Linked DNA regions of Homo sapiens. The protein of the gene in region 3 interacts with the protein of the main gene of each other region in a pairwise test. Each region holds a gene or a part of one and is shown on either strand. Other genes may lie near its edges.

The links. The genes of interacting proteins can lie anywhere in the genome.
Region 1: the proteins of ZBED1 (region 3) and NCDN interact in binary tests that used the Homo sapiens proteins (3 or more experiments, as listed by UniProt).
Region 2: the proteins of ZBED1 (region 3) and PRKAA1 interact in binary tests that used the Homo sapiens proteins (3 or more experiments, as listed by UniProt).
Region 4: the proteins of ZBED1 (region 3) and TTC23 interact in binary tests that used the Homo sapiens proteins (3 or more experiments, as listed by UniProt).

Annotation. Positions count from the first base shown.
Region 1 is NC_000001.11:35,560,799-35,564,038, reverse strand, and holds part of NCDN (neurochondrin), read right to left. Parts: coding exon 2,745-3,240; intron 1,648-2,744; coding exon 1,406-1,647; intron 838-1,405; coding exon 613-837; intron 273-612; coding exon 130-272; intron 1-129. UniProt on the Homo sapiens protein: Probably involved in signal transduction in the nervous system, via increasing cell surface localization of GRM5/mGluR5 and positively regulating its signaling. Required for the spatial learning process.
Region 2 is NC_000005.10:40,791,875-40,795,374, forward strand, and holds part of PRKAA1 (5'-AMP-activated protein kinase catalytic subunit alpha-1), read right to left. Parts: intron 1-3,500. UniProt on the Homo sapiens protein: Catalytic subunit of AMP-activated protein kinase (AMPK), an energy sensor protein kinase that plays a key role in regulating cellular energy metabolism.
Region 3 is NC_000023.11:2,490,977-2,494,476, forward strand, and holds part of ZBED1 (E3 SUMO-protein ligase ZBED1), read right to left. Parts: intron 1-3,500.
Region 4 is NC_000015.10:99,239,582-99,243,081, forward strand, and holds part of TTC23 (tetratricopeptide repeat protein 23), read right to left. Parts: intron 1,979-3,500; 5' UTR 1,784-1,978; intron 1-1,783. UniProt on the Homo sapiens protein: Participates positively in the ciliary Hedgehog (Hh) signaling.

The DNA.
Region 1 (3,240 bases), on a different chromosome or scaffold from region 3:
CAAAGATTTCCTCTTGCTTAGAAAATGCTGCAAAACCATCTTCTAAAAATGGTGACTTTTGCCCCAAACACAGGAGGTCCACCCAGGTCTTCTGTCCTCACCCATCAGGACTGGATCCCCAGTTCTTACCTGGAGAGGTGCTAAGGAGCCGGGCCATGAGGAGCCCCAGGGTGGCCACATTAGCAGCCAGAAGCAGCCTTCCCTGTTGCTGCACTAGTGCTGGTAGCGACGTCATGAGGGTGTTCATTAGAGATGTGAAGCAGGCGTCACGCCTGGAAAAGAAAGGGGGGAAGGATGGAGGTAGGTGGGGGTCTAGTACAGCCAAATCAAGCCCTTGGCAAGAAATTAGGCAGTAGGGTGATTAACTTTGGGCCCCAAACATAGCATCTGGGGGGCAGAGATTGGAACAAGCAGACATGCTGAGACAGTACCTGGGGGTTCCAGCATGCCGAATCCTTGTGCGGGGCTGGCTATGTCTACTCTGAGACCCCCATGCTACCACTAACAAATCCATGGGCATGGGGGGCAAAGTAGGAGACTGAGAATTGAGGCAACTGGGCAGCCTCCTTTGCCTCCTCCGGCCTCCTCCCCCACCTCTCCCGAGCCCCTCACTTGATCAGCCCCGGTGCGGTGACCACGAGGTTGAGGAAGATGTGGCAGCAGGTCTGCAGGCCAATCTCCACGCTGTCAGGCAGCACCGAGGTGTCGTGGCCAGGGGATGTGAGTTCCCACTGCTGCAGGAAATACTTGCACAGAAGCGAGGGGGCCCCTTCCTTGATCAGGATCTCCCGGGGCCCATCTTCAACGGTCAGGTGGCACCAGCCAGGCAGGAGGAGCCTGGGGATGTGGAAGGGACAGACGTGTGTGGGATTGGGAGAGATGAAGGCACATAGATTCCCTTTTTAGGGCACCTTGCCTAAGAGAAATGGAAGTAGGGGAGAAGGACACATCCTCGCAGGTACCACAGAAAAAGTACAAGCTTCAGAGTCGCACAACCCAGGACCAAACTTGGGCTCTGCCACAAAGTGTGACTGTGGGCAAGTGACTTTAATCTCTATGAGCCTCAGTTTCCTAATCTTTCATATGTGAATGAGACTTCTGTTATATTTACCACGTGGACCAAATGAGATCATTTTGGTAAAGGGTATAGCAAAATACCTGGCTCGTAGTAGGTGCTCAATAAGTATAAGTTCTCTTTTAACTGAGAAATCTGGGGTTGGCAAGTGACACCTGGCAGCCGAGGAGTCCTGTGGGAACAAGCCCCCCAAAACAGAAATAACCCTAAGGGATATCTCATGGCCCAATCAGGAAGCCTGGCACAGCTCAGTTTGTGGGGAGGGGTGTCCTTGTGTTAACGCTTTTCGGTAGAATGATCTAGCTGGACAGACTGTAACTACAGACTCACCGGAGAGCGTCTCCTGGCCAGGTGGGCCCTGGGGTGGTGGGGGAGATGGCCAGGTTGGCCACCTGCTGGGAAAGGTCATTGGCCTCCTCGGCCTCCTCGTAGAGGGTCTTGGCATAGCGGACGAGGAAGGGCAGCAGCTGGCACACCTCCTTACGCAAGGATGAGGTCTCCTCGGCCAGCCAGGCACCCAGGATCCGCACCGAGGCAAACACAAAGGGCTCCTTCTGCTTCTCTGACCCCACCTGTTGCCACAGGACCCCCTTGAGATGGAGCAGGACCAGGGACCCTCCCTGCCTTGCCAGAGGCCAGCCAGCTAGAAATAATACAACTAGAAGGAAATTCTGGCCTGTGAGCCTTTCAAAGGCAGGCCCCAACCTTTATTCTGTCCCATGAACCCAGCACCTAGCATGTGGTAGGGACGCACACAAGGGACTGGCACAGAGTGAGCCAGGCCCTCCACACACGTCTGCTGAGTGAACTGGGCCTGAGTGAATTGAGTGACATGCCCCCGTACTCGCTGAGGCTCCAGTCACATCTCCCTAACTCCCTACCTCTGGAGTGTCTCAAGGCTAGAAGGAAATTCATAGGTCAAAAGCTAAGTTAAACACCCTTTACAGCAGCTCTGACCTGGGGTGGGAGGGCAGGTTCCTGGCTACTGTGTAACTGCTCCCAATGGTGGGAGTGAGGGGATGCTCTCTTTTGTGCTAAGTCAGAAAAAAGACATGAGCTTAGCGTGGTGCATGGAATATATGGCTGGTGAGCTCGGTGGCTGGAGCAGGCCATTAAAGAGACCAGAGTCATGACTGAATCCCTGTGGGACAGGACAGCTGGCCTCTCAGGCGGGGAGGCAGGAGGGGATGTAGGGGAGGCAGGCGAATTGATCTAGCCAGACCTCTATAGAGGCCAGGAACCAGGCAGCCCTGCTTCTCTTCCCTGCACCATTAGAAGTTCGGGTGTGTGCGTGTATAAAACAATGCTATGGAGTGAGCAGAACAGACTGCTTCAATCTTGTGTGCATGTGTTGGGGAGAGGTGTGTGGCGTGTAGTGTGTGTGTATTGGGGGGAGCGTTTGAGTGGGAGGTTACTGTGTTGTGTGTGTGTGCGTGTGTGTGTACTGTGATGTGAGTGCACATATGGTGTGTGGTATGGTGCTTGTGTGGAGGGAGGGAGAGAGAGGGAGGTTGGGCCGCACACTACTCCCTGGAGTGCTGGCTACAGTATCAGCTTGTGTGGACATGCAGCTTCGCTGTCTCCCCATTATTCTCCTCCCCCTTGCCTCCCAGCTCCAGCACTGGCTCCCCCCATACTGGGCCCCCTCTGTGGGTCACTGCACCCTCACCTGCAGCAGGTAGTGGATAACAGCCCCTATGGCCTCCTTCATGACGCTCACGAGCTGCACCTTCTGTGGCTCCTTAAGCAGTGACTGCTCACAGCGAGTGCATTCCTGGATCCCCAACTCCATGAGGGCATAGCAGGCGGTCACCACATCCTCTTTCACCTCCGTGCCCGTCTCCTCCAGTGCCAGCCGCACTTCCACGCACGCCAGATTCACCAGCAGGGCCAGGAACTTGCTCCCGGAGCTGCCCGCCGGGATCCAGTCGGAGCCGCAGGCGTGTGCCAGGCGGGCTGCCAGCTTCAGTGCAGGGTTGCGCTGCCAGGAGCTCAGCTTGCTTCCCAGGATGCGTGCCAGCCCGGCCTGCAGATCCCGGTAGCATTCAGGGGGCACGGTTGTCGGGGGCAAAAAGAGGGGCAGCAGCTGGCAGAGCTCAAACTTGCTGGCATCCTCAGCTTTCTGGAAATCCTCACTGAGGCCCCGCAACACGGCCAGCAGGTCG
Region 2 (3,500 bases), on a different chromosome or scaffold from region 3:
CCACTATCCTGAATTTGGTGTTTGTGTTTCCCACGTTTAAATATTTTTACATGGGTAGGAATCCATAAAAAATATAGTAACATTATTTTTCATATTTATTTTTACAAATGTCATTGCATATATTTTGATAACACAATACCTGCACTATACACACAGTTCAAAAGTACAAAAGCATCTATGGTGCAACACAATGTCCTCCTTTACCTAGTCCCCTATACTGAGCAACTAACGTAACCAGTCTTGTGTGTATCTTTAAAGAGACATACTCTATATATAAAAGCAGTCACATTTAAGATACAGATTTGCCCCTGCCTTTTATACATAAGTGGTAGGCATATTGAACACACTGTTCTACTTTTTCCTCTTAAAAATACACCTTGGAAATTGTTCTCTAAAATATACAAAGTTCCTCCCTTTTTCTTCCTTAATGTTTGCAAGGTATTTCACTATATGGATAAACCATAACTATTACTATTAGAAAGGTTACTTCGAAAGTTTTGTATTAATATTTACAACAATATGGCAGCGAATAACCCATTATTTCATACACGAGTACATCTATAAAATAATTCCTAGAAGTTGAATTGTTAGGTTAATTTTAATAAATGCTGTCACTCTCTCATGTAGAGGTAGGATACCAATTTATACTCTACCAGCATTGTATGAGTGGTTCTGTAGGTTTCTAAAATTTATATAAATAACAGCAAACTATACATATTCTTATACAACTTGCTTTCGAGGTCTAACCTTATATTTTTAAGATTCATTCACACTGATATATATAGCTCTAGTTCATGTTTATAATTTTTACTTAAAGGAATTTTTAAATAACTTCTACTATGATTCATTCACAAAGTACCTATGTAGCTGAAATTGCAGTTTTACACAGAAATACTTACGAACTTAGGCCAAGCATGGTGGCTCATGCCTGTAATCCCAGCACTGTGGGAGGCTGAGGTGGGTGGATCACCTGAGGTCAGGAGTTCGAGACTAACCTGGCCGACGTGGTGAAACCCCATCTCTACTAAAAATACAAAAAAAAAATAGCTGGGCGTAGTGGTGGGCGCCTATAATCCCAGCCACTTGGGAGGCTGAGGCTGGAGAATCGCTTGAACCCGGGAGGTGGAAGTTGCAGTGAGCTGAGATCGCACCATTGCACTCCAGCCTGGGCGACAAGAGTGGAACTCCATCTCAAAAAAAAAAAAAGAAAAAGAAAAAAAAGAAATACTTGCCAACTTAATAGTTTATATGTATAAATAACTCATTTGCCGAAGATACACCCAGCCTACCAAAGAGACCATCTTCTCTAGAAAAACTAACAAAGACTGCCATTTTAATGATATTACTCTGCTCATCCATGCTTTTTTTGGGCAGAGGGAAGGCCCACAAGGGCACAGAACCTAACATCTTGATAACTAGAAGGAAAAAAAAAAGATGCCTTGGAAACAATAAAGACAATTCAAGCATAATCACAAAATAACCCTAGTTTTCTGTAAACTTTCCTCTCAAAATGCTACCACTAAGTAACCAAACAAATTTTTTGGCCTGTAACAGGAAACAATCACTCCGAACTTCCAGCCTACTCTCCCCGCAAAATTAAATTTCCTATAAGCATGGAATATCATACTTAGACTTTTTCTGCATATCAATATCATATATTTTATTAGATCCCTCTTCATGTTAAATTTACCAATATGTATAAGTAATTTTTAAAGCTTTCTTTACTCCAAATTGTCTAAACATATGGTTAACCCTATTATTTGCAAGAATTCTTGCATAATTAAGGCTGTTGGTGTTTAATTACCAACATCACCACAATAGTGGCCATTTCTGTGTGTTCACTGAGTATCCATGTCCCCCTTTCTCTCTCCTAACAACATCCATTTATGTGTAGGTGTCTACCCTGTCCCCCCACACTATCCAAGTACTTAGAAGATGTCTCCCAGCCCAGCACGGTGGTTCAGGCCTGTAATCCCAGCACTTTGGGAGGCCGAGGCGGGTGGGATCACCTGAGGTCAGGAGTTCAAGACCAGCCTGGCCAACATGATGAAACCCCATCTCTACTAAAAATACAAAAATTAGCAGGACGTGGTGGCACACGTCTGTAATCCCAGCTACTAGGGAAGTTGAGGCAGAAGAATCACTTGAACCTGGGAGGCAGAGGTTGCAATGAGCTGAGATTGCGCCAATGCACTCCAGCCTGGGTGACAAGAGCAAAACTGTCTCCAAAAAAAAAAAAAAGTGTTCCCTGTTCACCACATGCACACTAAAATCTATCTACTGCTTTTTGATTTTTTGATGATGGCCATTCTTGCAGGAGTGAGGTGGTATCACATTGTGGTTCTGATTTGCATTTCCCTGATCATTAGGGATGCTGAGCATTTTTTCATGTTTGCTGGCCATTTGTATATCTTCTTTTGAGAACTGTCTATTCATATCCTTAGCCCACTTTTTGATGGGACTATTTGTTTTTTCTTACTTATTTGTTTGAGTTCATTGTGGATTCTGGATATTAGTACTTTTTCAGATGTATTGATTAGGAAGATTTTCTCCCACTGTGTGGGTTGTCTGTTTACTCTGCTGTTCCTTTTCCTGTGCAAAAGCTCTTCAATTTAATTAGGTCCCATCTATTTATCTTTGTTTTTATTGCATTTGCTTTTGGGTTCTTAGTCATTAAATCCTTGCCTAAGCCAATGTCTAGAAGGGTTTTTCCAATGTTATCTTCTAGAATTTTTATAGTTTCAGGTCTTAGGTTTAAGTCCTTAATCCATCTTGAGTTGATTTTTATATAAGGTTGAGAGATGAGAATCCAGTTTCATTCTCCTACATGTGGCTGGCCAATTATCCCAGCACAATTTGTTGAAAAGGGTGAACAGGGAACACTTCTACACTGCTGGTGGGAATGTAAACTAGCACAGCTGCTATGGAAAACAGTGTAGATATTCCTTAAAGAACTAAAAGTAGAACTACCATTTGATCCAGCAATCTCTTCTGAAAAGAAGTCATTATTCGAAAAAGATACTTGCACATGCATGTTTATAGCAGCACAATTCACAATTGCAAAATCGTGGAACCAATCCAAATGCCCATCACTCAATGTATGGATAAAGAAACTGTGGTGTATACATATATATACACACACACACACACACACACACACAAAATGGAATACTACACAGCCATAAAAAGGAATGAATTAACAGCATTTGCAGTGACTTGGATAAGAGTGGAGACTATTATTCTAAGTGAAGTAACTCAGGAATGGAAAACCAACACAGTATGTTCTAATCACTGATATGTGGGAGCTAAGCTATGAGGACGCAAAGGCATAAGAATGATACAGTGGACTATGGGGACTTGAGGGGGAAGAGTGGGAGAGGGGTGAGGGATAAAAGACTACAAATATGATGCAATGTATACTGCTCAGGTGATGGGTGCACCAAAATCTCACAAATCACCACTAAAGAATTTACTCATGCAACCAAATACCATCTGTACCC
Region 3 (3,500 bases):
TCCGACTGCAGCGATGCCGCACGTGTCAACATACAGGTTTGCGAGTGAGCACGGCATTTTTGCAGGGCTGTACCTGACAAGTGCCTTTAGTTTTTTTTTTTTTTTTTTTTTGAGACAGAGTTTCGCTCTGTCACCCAGGCTGCAGTGCAATGGCGTGATCTCAGCTCACTGCAACCTCCGCCTCCCGGGTTCAAGCGATCTTCCTGCCTCAGCTTCCTCAGTAGCTGGGATCACAGGCACCTGCCATCACGCCTGGCTAATTTTTGTATTTTTAGTAGAGACAGGGTTTCACCATGTTGGTCAGGCTGGTCTCGAACTCCTGACTTCAGGTGATCCACCCGCCTTGGCCTCCCAAAGTGCTGGGATGACAGGCGTGAGTCACCGCGCCCAGCCTGACAATGCCTCTGTCATCGCAGGGGCTTGTTGTTCCTGTCCTAAGAGTTTCCCAAGCACCTGCCACGTGGGAAAGCTGCGTAGATCTTTTCTGGGGATGAAGCCTACATAGAAGAATCCACAAGTGGCCAGGCAGACCCCCCACTGCCAACCATCACAGCAGGACTCTCTGAATGCCACCTGAGCTTCATTCACTGCATTAAAGAAGCCAAACAGGACCTCCATCTGACTAAAGCCAGCTTTCCTATGGCTAAGAGGCACTGCACACTCTTCTCAAACTTTATGGTTTAAAATGAAGCCATGTGGAACGTCACAGGTGCATCCGTGATCTGTAAGCACGTCTGAAGAAGCATGGATTTCTCAATCCCTGGAACTTCTCAAAATGCCCATTGTGTCCAGTCACACCTGTGGGCAGAAAGGCCCAACTGGGCAAATATCACACACCTGTGCAAACATCAGGCAGTCGGTGTGGAGGCTTAGATGACCCAGAAGCCAGTCCCCAGGGTTCCTGTTGAGGTTGAATGCTCACACATACAGGCCCTTCCAGCTGCCACTCAGGAGGCCACCTCTGTGACTGGGTTGCCCAAAATGACAGCTGGGCTTTGTTAAAAGGTGTAATTGTGTCTCCAAGTGTCCAGTACAGTGCTCAGGAGGGTAAATATCAAAATGCACCACCCAGGCACGTTCAGAGTGTTGGGATACAGTCAGTGCAAGGAGGCATATTTCAATGATGACTATAGTGGGTTGAAAAGCGTCCTCCCCTACCAAAGAAAATCTGTATCCACCTGGTACTTGTGTATGGGACCTTGTTTGGAAAAAGGGTCTTTGCAGATGTATTAATAATGAAGGTAAGGATCTTTAGATGAGATTATTCTCAATTGAGGTGGTCCTAAATGCAGTGACCAGTGTCCTTAATAGAAGACAGATGAGGAGACACGGACACACAGGAGAAGACCACATGGAGACAGAGGCCGAGACTGGAGTGATGCGGCCACAAACCCAGAACGCCTGGAGCCCCCAGGAGCTGGGAGAGGCAGGAAGGATCCTCCTCTAGAGCCTCCACAATGAACTGGATAAAATCATGGTGGATTGAACAGTGGCCCGCAGAAAGATCTGTCCACAGCCTAAAGCCCAGGATGTGGAATGAGATCTTACTTGGTTATTAGAAATTTTGTAGATCTCATGAGTTAAGGATCTGGAGATGAGATCATCCGGGATTTGAGTGAGCCCTAAATGCAGTGACAGATGTCCTTATAAAAGACAGAAGAGGAGACACAGACACAGAGAAGGCCACATGGAGACAGAGGCAGAGACTAGAGTGATGATGTGGCTGGCCTGAAGCCCAGGGACGCCAGGAGCCCCCAGGAGCTGGGAGAGGCAGGAAGCACCCTCCGCGTAAGCCTCCGGAGGGAGCGCAGCCCTGAGACACTTTGATTACAGACTTCTGGCCTCCAGAACTGGGAGAGAATAAGCTATGGTTTTAAGCCCTCCGGTTTCTGGTACTTTATTAAAGCAAGGTATTCTGAAGGTTAATTTTGCCCGAAATAATGAGTGGAGGTCTTAGAAAGGCCCCCCGTCTTCACGGGCAGTCGCGGCCTGCGTTGCTGGCTTTCCGTCAACGGTGCCCGCCCAGTGCTTTTTAGGGAGACGCCGCCACGTGCCAGGTGAGCTGGGCATTGCCAGAGCCCAGCAGTGCCACTTCCCAAGACTGGGGTGCAAGGAGGGGGGTCCTGTGGCCAATGCCAGCACCCTGGTTTGTTCTAAGGTGCTGAGAGAATGAATAACATGACCGGGACTTCCACAAAACGAGGAACCCCCAAACTGCATCTTCTGCAGCCGAGTTAGGGTGGGGCCCCTGGATTACACAGTCAACGGAGGGGGAAAAGAATCTCAAGAGGCCTCCTAAGTCCGACCTGAGTGACAGGACACAGCTGTATCAGATCCTCCATCATCATCATCATCATATTATTATTTGGCTGAAACAGGTTTTGGTAATTGGGAGGAAAAGGTTTACATTCCATTATTATTATTTGTGCTATTGGGCTGAAAGAGGTCCCAGTCCTCAAACAAAAGTTTAAATTCTATTTATTATTATTATTATCATTATTATTATTATTATGTGGCTGAAAGCGGTTCTGGAACCTGAAGGAAAGGTTTCAATTCCATTATTATTATTATTTTTATTATTATGAAGATTAGGCTGGAAGAGGTCCCAGTACCAGTAACAAAGGTTTATATTCTAATTATTATTGTTACGGTTGTTATTATTATTAGGCTGAAAAAGGTCTCAGTACCTGTAGCAAAGATTTTTATGCTGGCACCAGGCACAGCGGCTCACGCCTGTACTCTCAGCACTTTGGGAGGCCAAGGTGGGTGGATCATCTGAGGTCAGGAGTTTGAGACCACCCTGGACAACATGGTGAAACCCCTCCTCTACTAAAAATACAAAATTAGCCGGGCGTGGTAGTGGCACATGCCTGTAGTCCCAGCTACTCGGGAGGCTGAGGCACGAGAATCGTTTGAACCCGGGAAGCAGAGGTTGCAGTGAGCCGAGATGGCGCCATTGCACTGTAGCCTGGGCAACAAGCGCAAAACTCCGTCTCAAAGAAAGAAGAAAACAAAAAAAAAGATATATATGCTATTATTACTATTGTTTTTAGGCTGGAAGAGGTCCCGATACCTGGAAGAAAAGTTTGTACTCGGTTATTATTATCTGTCTGAAAGAGGTCCTGAAAGCTGGAGCAAACATCCATATTCTATTATTATTATTATTATTGTGATTGTTTGACTGAAAGAAGTCCCAGTGCCTGGGGCCAAGGTTTATATTCTATTATCATTGCTGTTATTATTATTTGGCTGAAACAGGTCCTGGTACCTGTAGCAAAGGCTTATATTATTACATTATTATTATTATTAGGCTGGAAGAGGTCTCGACACCTGGAACAAAAATTTTCATTCTATCATTATTATTATTATTAGGCTGAAAGAGGTTCTAGAACCTGGAGCAAAGGTTTTTATTCTATTATTATTACTTTTGTTATTAGGCTGAAAGAGGTCCCAGTAACAGAACAAAAGTTTATATTCTATTTTATTACTATTTGGCTGAG
Region 4 (3,500 bases), on a different chromosome or scaffold from region 3:
CACCCTGTTGTACAGAGACACAGTGCTATTTGAGATCCTAAGATGTTGGCTAACTTTTTTCTAATAACTTCTTGCCTTATGCTTCCTCATCTGTTCAACCCCACTGGCTGATAAGATGACCATTTCAACAGGTGCTGCAGTCTAGGGAAAGAGCAGTAGCCAGAGATGGAGAATCTGAGATTCAAGAACCTGTGCTGTCCCAACTACCCATGTGATTTGGGCAATACCAACTAATATATACATAACACTTTATACTTTCACATGTTTTATCTCATGTGGCCCTTACAACCATGTAAGGTACAGAGGGTAGCTATTATCATCCCCATTTTATAAATAAAGACGATGAAATGAACCTAAATCAGTTGCACATCACACAGCCAGAATTAGCACCCTGGTCTTCTCATAATTTGGGGGTTTCCCATGACATCATCCTGCCTTTCACTGACCACAGTCTACAGCAGTGGGAAGCAAATGCTGTTGCTTTGGAAACCTAAGCCTGCATTTTAAAAAGTGATCATACATTTTTATAAACAGGAATGCAACATCTTCAATAGATTTAACTATATTTTCTTATCTTCCATTTAGTGGGAGGCAGAAAAGAAAGTTTAAAGATGAAATAAGTAAGAGGCCCTGCAGTATTTGTTATTCTGGGCCTCTGAACCTAGTGTTAAACTTCGAAATGGATTTAACTTTTCTTTTTTGGCTTAATTGTAAAAACTGGTTTGTCTCATGCTGCCTCTTAATATTGCATCCTTAAAAGAGAGGTTATATTTATTCTGAGCACTCATAGGCTCATCTAACTTGTATATATATATTTTTTTTCGCCAGTTAAAAAAAATTGAGCCATCATTTTAAAATTAGGAGTTTCACATGAAGATGTAGATTTTGGGGTTTCTGACTTCCTTTGAAAACTCAGAACACTTGTCAACACTAGATCTATGCCACCACAGGCAATAATCAGCTAGGGAAGAGGGGGAGCTGCCCTGGGGGCAAGGGTACTCTCCAGTTTGCCTGTTGCCACCAATCCCTATTGGCTACCGGACATGAAGGCAGCAAAGTCGTTCCCATTTGTCATTGTTCTTGTGTCTTATTGTAGGAAAGTAGGTCTCTGTATCCATTTCTCTCTTTCAAAGTGAAAGGCCAACAGAGAAGGATATAATTTTCCTGGCCAACACCACTCATTTTCTGTTATTTCGTCTAATCTAAAGCACCACTGACTATAAAGATGCTGCTTTTTTATACACCATTTGACTTGCAATTGTAACGTTCACTCTAATTTCAGAGATGTTCAAATGCCAAAAAAAATGTACGTCTCTGAATCAATGAAAGGAGGAGGTATGCTACCTGTCTGGCTTCTAGAGGCATTTGAGTCTGTGGCCTTACTTTAAATGTATGTGTTTCAATGTATGTGGCATCACACAGTAACATCCTCAACATAAAAACATACTTCTCAGGCAGGGCGCGGGGGCTCATGCCTGTAATCCCACCACTTTGAGAGGCTAAGGCTGGCAGATCACCTGAGGTCGGGAGTTCGAGGCCAGCCTGACCAACATGGAGAAACCCTGTCTCTACTAATACAAAAAATTAGCCAGGTGTGGTGGCACACACCTGGTAATCCCAGCGACTCGGAGGCTGAGGCACAAGAATCGCTTGAACCTGGGAGGCAGAGGTTGCAGTGAGCCGAGATTGTGCCACTGCACTCCACCCTGGGCAACAAGAGCGAAACTGTCTCAAACAAACAAACAAACAAACAAACAAAAAACATGCTTCTCAGTTCACTTACTTTGAGTTACATGCTTATCATCAGCCACTTTTCTTTGTAGTAGCTATAGCTGGGGCTTAAAATTTCATCAGACATCAGCCCAGGTCCCACAAACCATCCTCTTCTTGCCAGCCGTGGGTTCAGCTTTCTAGGTCTCTGAATCACAACTGCCAATGAGACCTACTCAGTCAGTTGATACTGTTCCTTCTGCCAGACCTGCCCAGTAGAATGTTAAAGCACATAATCAGCCCCAGATCAGGGTGTTAGGAAGAAGAGGTCTGAAGTGGAGTCTCAGTCTTCCAAGTGGTGATGTTCAAAATAATAACTGAAATAGCAGGAGGGCCAACCAATCTATATAGGTGCCAACTAGGCTGGAGCTCAGTTCTGAAGGTCCCCTGCTTTTCCAGGTGTGAACCGTTGGAGGCTGACTTGTGGAGAGATGTAGGGGAGCCTGAGGAAGGGGCAGGGGCCCTCAGGGCAGTGGCTTTTAGGAAATAAAAAACCTCATCAATCAGGGACGGTGGCTCATGCCTGTAATATCAGCACTGTGGGAGGCTGAGATGGGTTGATGGCTTGAGCCGAGGAGTTCAAGGTCAGGCTGGGCAACATGTCAAAACCCCGTCTCCACTAAAATTGCAAAAATTAGCCGAGTGTGGTGGCGCTCGGCTTCTCCAGCTACTTGGGAGGCTGACGGGAGAGGACTGCTTGAGCCCAGGAGGCGGAGGCTACAGTGAGCTGAGATCACACCACTGCACTCCAGCCTGGGTGACAGAACAAGATCCTGTCTCAGAAAAAAAAAAAAAAAGTTAAAAAAAAGAAGCCATTATGACTAGTTTCTTAACTAGTGAAAGTGTACGCTAGTTAAGAAGCAAACTTACCCATATGTAAGCTAACGCACTGGAAAAACACTCTAAAAAGATAAAAAATACCAAAAAAATAGTGATAAAAAAATAACAGAAAAATAGAAAATCTGAATAGATCTATAACAAGTAAAAAAATTAAATTAGTAATTAAAAATATTTATACAAGGTTAAGCCCAGGCTCAGATGGCATCAGTGATGTATTCTACCAAACCATTAAAGAAGAAACAACATGAGTATTTTGAAAACTCTAACAGAAGATAGAGAAGGAAACTCTCACTTGTTCTATGAGGTCAGTATTACCCTGATACCAAAGCCAGACAAAGACATCACAAGAAAATAACAAATGAATACCCTTCATGAATATGGACACAAAAATCCTCAACAAAATATTGGCAAACCAAATCTAGCAACATATACAAAGGATAATACATTATGATCAAGGGGAGTTTATCCTAGAAATGGAAGGTTGGTTTAACATCTGAACTCATTAATATAATACACTATACAGTAGAATGTGGTCACAAACCATCTGATCATCTTGATAGATGCAGAAAACACATTTGGCAAAATCCATTATCCAATCATGATTAAAAAAACTTCCCCAACCTGATAAAAGGCTGATAAAAGCCTGATTTTACAAATCAAAGTGGATTAAAGACTTAAATATAAGACCTGAAACTATAAAATTACCAAGAGAAAACACTGGGGAAACTCTCTGGGACAGTGGTCTGGGGAAAGAATTCTTAAGAAAGATCTCAAAAGTACAGGCAACCAAAACAAAAATGGACAAATGGGATCACATCAAGTAAAAAAGCTGCTGTATAGCAAAGGAAACAATCAACAAAGTGAAGAGACAACCCACAGAATGGGAGAAA